Linked DNA regions of Homo sapiens: region 2 is linked to region 1. A link means that fine-mapping ties the variant in region 1 to the expression of a gene that starts in the linked region. Tissue or cell type: whole blood. Region 1 holds a variant in brackets; the other region holds the start of a gene. All regions are shown on one strand. Distances are from middle to middle.

Region 1 (2,686 bases):
GAAAGGCCTGAACAAAAGTCAGTTTCACTTAGGAATAACTTGGAGAAGAGAATGCCCTGTAAGTGGTTGGCACTTTGAACTATTAAATGATTAAAGGGTCTGGAATCACTAAGAGATCATCTCAAAGAAGTGATTTCTTAATGAGGGACACATTCACAAGCAACTCTGGGATCTGGTTCAAGATGACCAGAAATAAACAAAAAAAAGGCGTCCCTGGCATTTCAAAACTCAGATCCTAAGACTTCATGAGAAATGACATTTGCAACATCAACTACTCTGCTCTTAAGAGATAGGAGACCCCGTTACTTCATATATGCTACACATTTGAGTGTTAATGTACATACGCGCATTTGTGTGTGTGTATCTATGAGAGGGGGAATTAACAAATTACATGGATTTGTGTATGTGTGTGTGCCTAAGAGACAAGGAAGGAAAACAGTGCAGTTGAGAAAGGTGAAGCAAATGTGGCCAAGTACAATGAGTGATGCTGTTGTTCAAGGACAGTTAATCTTCACAGGCAGTCTGAAAGGAGACAGTAAATTAAACAGTGTCCACAATCGGTGCGGGGATTGGCCAACAAGGGAAAATCCCAAGGACTCACAAGGAGTTAGATTGTTACAAAGACCTTTTGGAAAGGGAGTAAAATCCATTAGAAGATTAAGTTCAGCCCAGAAGCCAATGTAAGGAAAACAATTGCAGGAGTGTTTTTCAACACATCAGATGACAGAAGAGCAAAATAATCATTCAGACACTCTGTAATAATGCCAGATGTATTCTCATAGGCTGGACTACGGGGAGAGCTGAGGATGCTATCTGTCCCCTGTCTGCTTACCTCTATTCCAATTTAGCCAATTCTTTTTTTTTTTCTTTTCTTCTTGAGACAGAGTCTCACTCTGTTGCCCAGGCTGGAATGCAGTGGCGCGATCTTGGCTCAATGCAACCTCCGTCTTGTGGATTCAAGCAATTCTCCTGCCTCAGTCTCCCCAGTAGCTGGGATTACAGGCACCTGCCACCACACCTGGCTAATTTTTCTATTTTTAGTAGAGATGGGGTTTCACCATGTTAGCCAGACTGGTCTCAAACTCCTGACCCCAGGTGATCTGCTGCCTCAGCCTCCCAAAGTGCTGGGATTACAGGCGTAAGCCACCGCACCCAGCATCAATTTACCCAATTTTTATTTCCCTCATTCCTACCCATAAAGACTGGGTTAGTGCTTAAGCAGAAAATAATCACTGGCATAGTTTTTTTCCACCCCTGCCCTCACCAACGTTTCTCTTGTTTGTGAGACTAGATTTTGCCAGTGAGTTCACAATGCTACAGAGGTCTTTCTTTAAAGGATCCATTTGACCTTGCTGGTTCCATGGCCATCGATTACAGCTCTCATTTTGGCTGAGATGCCTGCCCTGATCAGCATCTTACACATAGCAGTGGAAAGTCTGGAGAGAGGAAATTGGAGAATGTGGATAGCTCAGAGCAATGCATTACCTATCTTACCAAAAAAAAAAAAAAAAAAAAAAAAAAAAAAAAAAATCAGCAGCAGCAAATAACCTATGCATCTGAAATCCCTACCTTGGGCCAACTGTCTGGGTCTCCTGACCTGAAACAGTAAAAGGAGCCACAAGAGAGGAGAACACTGTTTGGGGAAGAGTCTAGGACACTGAATTC[A/T]GTTTGGCCAGGGCCAGCTGAAACAGGAAATTGCAGCAAAGATGCAGCTTCTGGAGAAAGACCTGTTGTAATAAAAAGCTCCCAGTTTGGAGTGAGGGGGGTGGAAAGTGACCAATCTATAAAACAAACTCTAGGAGCCACCTCAAAATAAAATGTTCCTCAAGGTCATCTGTGAGCCCTTGTAAGTACTTTAGAACTGCCTGACAGATGCTAATTAACTCTCCTGACTCCGCAGCCCCAGGGAGATGTGAATGTGTTTAACTGATGAGCACATTCAAGCTGTACTATTCCTGGAGCTCTAACTGCTTCTTGAAAGACCTTTTGAAGAAAATATTTGGTAACATCATAGAACGTCCAAACTGAAATGGACCACAAAGAGCCTCTTTAGAGAGGAAGAAGGAATAATAGAAAGAATATGGACTTGGAGAAAGATCTAAATCTAAATCCCAGATAAGGAATCTACCAGCTGTGTGAGTGCCAAGAAGTCACTTAAACATCTAAGCCTCAATCTTTCTTATCTGCAATATGAGGATAACACCACCCATACCACAGATTGTACTGGTAAAATGCATTGCCCTGTTCCCAGCTTATAGTGATCTACAGTTAGAGTATAATTTGTAATATGCTATAAACTATGGCATACTATAAAGTATTGTGGTAGTTAATTTAGAGCACACTTTCCTCATGTCCCTTCTCCTTTGTACACATTCACCAGTCGCATCCTCTTGTGACACGCTAGCTACTGTAGAAAACACATCCATGAGATTCTCAAGGCCTCCCACTCCTTACCCTAAAATGGCCAACATGTTTGCCAGCAAAGTGGTGGAGGAGCCAGCTTGCCAGCTTTAGCTCTGAATTCCATGTCTCTCGTGCTCCATCATCATCTAGCAGGCCCATGGCTTTGCCCTTTAAAACCACTGGCCCCTGCTGGGGAGGGTTAGTCACATGGGACAGTGGTAACACTCACGTTTGCACATTCACCCACAATGGTTCATGTCAGTCCCATCCAACAGCATCCTCC
Region 2 (2,686 bases), 130 kb before region 1:
GAGCAGCACAAAGTGCTGGCCTCTAGAAGACAGGATAGAGACCGCTGGTGAAGCTTGTCAAATCAGAACCCAGGCAGTAAGTCCTGTGTTTAAAACAGGGAATGTGAGGGCATTCCCACCTCAGATGCACAGGTGTTTAAAACAAGGCCTGGAAAGAGCCTGTTGGTAGGAGGGGGAAGAACAGGAGGGCTGCTACAGGGGGCTTCTCCCACTGTGCCCTAGTGGGCTGTGACAGGTGCAGGCTTCTCCACAAGCAACAGTCTACGGCAGCGCTTCTCAGCTATGGCCGGGCATCAGAATCTACCTGGGGACCTTCTGGGCAATAGCTGGGTTCAAATCCAGCTCTGCCAAGTACTATCTTTGTGACCTCAAGCTATTTACTTTGTCTGTCTGAACGTGAGTTATCTGCAGGATGGAAATATCATCTACCTCCCAGGGCTGCTGGGAGGGTTAGACAAAATGATGCAACTATAGCCTGCAGCACAGAGCTGAGGACATGGTGTGCACTCAGCAACCTTCAGCAGCACAGAGCCGAGGACATGGTGGGCACTCAGCAACCTTCAGCTGTGGCTGCAGAAGGTGAAGCCAGCTCCCGAGAACGTGGCCTGATCCTGCAGCTTTTCAGTACAGGACAATCTCACACCCCTCCCTTGGGGCTGTTCTCCTGTGCAGACACTGCAGTTTGTCCCTGTACCTTTTCAAGTGGGTCCACAGAGGGGCATGGATGTTGGGCGGGTGAGGGGCTCACCTTTCATCCTCTAGCCAAGCCTCTGGAGCCGCGTCAGTCCCACTGGCCAGCTGTGCTCCTGCAGTCTTGTTGATCTCTGTCACACCCACACTGCCCAGGCTGGAGGGCTCCTTTCTCCTCAGGAAGTCATTCACTTTGGCCCCCATGGCTTTGCCCAGGTTCTTGAGGTGCTGGCTGCTGCCCACCCAGAGTCCTGGCCCCCCAGGCTCACCAGAGCCCAGAGGGGCAGAGCCGGGGGCCACGGGCTTGGACAAGTGGGGGAAGGAGCGGCTGGCCTGGAGCTTTGGAGTGAGGGCTGTGTTCAAATTCTCAAACATGCCGTGGTCAACTATGAACAAAGAGGCGACAGAGAGGCATGATGAGGAAAGGGGAGCGGTACCTGTGCTCTATCATTCAGTTTTTCCTTATCCCACACCCAAAACCTGTAACTTCCAAGGCTTTGGAAATATTCAAGAAAGAGCCAGCAAAGACACTCTTGAACTTTCCAGTGTAGTTTTCTTGATGGGACAGGAACTAGAAATTCTAGCTCTGCCCCACCCAAGTTAATCAGTGACTAATGCTAGCCATAAAAAAATAAAGTTGTTCCTGTAAACCTGCCTCCTTGACTCATGGGCTTGGCCCCTTTACCTTGGAGTCACCACGCCCTTTGGAGTAAAGAAAAAATGAGGATGAAGCAATGAAACATGACATTTTTACATCACCGTAAGCACGTGCTGAGCTCTCAGTGGGTTGGAAGCTGGTGGAGGGATGGCATGGATGAGGCTTGGTGTTAGAAGCTCCCCACTGAAGGCCATGAGTATAGCACATATTCTCCACAAAAAATGGGGCAGCAGCTCCTCAGGTCTACAGAGGTGGGCCTTGAGCGAGTGGGCCAGCTCTTGCAGAGGTGCTAAGTGGTGGTTCAGAATCAGTTCGTACCAAATGGATAGGAACTCGGTGCCAGTGAAGCACGAGGATCCCAATGAACATCAGCTTACTTAATCCTTACAACCACCTAGGGAGGTGGTACATGGAAGGATATCTACCTACAGATGAAGCCTGCAGGACTCCGCGTAATGCAGTGCCGTGCCTGAGGTCACACAGCTAAATACTAGCAGGGCTGGAGCTAGAACTCAGGCCTTCTAACCCACAGCTCAGGGCTCTGTCCACAACTTTGCCCTGCTATAGATCATGGAACAGCTGCCTATATATGCCTGGTACATGGTCCTTCTTGTAGGGATCCTCTTTGGCTTGAAAAATTAACTCAAAGAGCTGGGTATAAACCCATTAGGTTGTAAAGATTTGCAAGGCAGAGAGCATGCCTCATTCATCTTTGTATTTTCAACACCTAGCCTGGGTTTGGTACCTAGCTGTGCTCAATACAGATCTTGAATCGCCAAAACCCATTTTGTAGATAGAAAATTGTGGTGGCCAAGGTGGTAGCTTAAAGGTTTGTTATTGAAATGACTGGAGCTCCAGGCTCTAAGCCATGCTGTCCACACACTCACACTTGGCCATCCTCTCCCTATCTGGAAATCCAGCTCAGTCATCAGGCAGCCAGACCCACTCTGAGGCCTTGGAATCTGGGTCAAGGTTTCTGTCTACACCAACTACCCCAGATATGTTGTCAGTCTGAGGAAAGGAGATCGCTCGATCATTTGATGACTAGGCTCCTTTCCTTGTGAACACCTCTGCTAAGTGTCTATTTTCACTGAGCCTCTTCTAAGAGTAACTGGGGTTAGGGTGTACTTTTTCTTCTGCTGAATTTTTGTGTAAAGCAGTTCTTTCTGCCCTGCACTGCTGTATCCCGGGCCAGTGAAAACCTTTCTTGTGGTTTCAGTGGTGCTATCCTTTCTAGGCCAACTACCTAGGTATGCCATATTCTAAGGGCCTTTGGGTGGCAGGGAGGAAAACCTGTGGGAAGTGAAGTGGAGACTACTCTCTGCGGATGAGCCCTGT

Alleles and levels. Positions count from the first base shown, and alleles are read on the strand shown. Sizes are in standard deviations (SD) of each study's normalised expression.
As copies of T replace A in region 1, the expression in whole blood of the gene that starts at base 1,239 in region 2 goes down (small effect, 0.40 SD a copy in GTEx).

Evidence for each region. PIP is the estimated chance that this variant, and not a neighbour inherited with it, causes the effect.
Region 2: it holds the start of C1orf226, and the variant in region 1 is fine-mapped to the expression of C1orf226 in whole blood (GTEx, PIP 0.97).

Annotation. Positions count from the first base shown.
Region 1 is chr1:162,254,335-162,257,020 of GRCh38, reverse strand. The region is part of intron 2 of NOS1AP (nitric oxide synthase 1 adaptor protein); the gene reads right to left. Among named protein-coding and RNA genes, the nearest start is that of MIR556, 87 kb to the left of the region's middle. The variant A/T (reference allele first, on the strand shown) is at 1,666.
Region 2 is chr1:162,380,281-162,382,966 of GRCh38, reverse strand. It overlaps C1orf226 (chromosome 1 open reading frame 226), which reads right to left and starts at 1,239. Exons shown (of 2, transcript NM_001085375.2): 1 at 749-1,239. The coding sequence starts at 1,065. RefSeq lists a silencer at 294-588.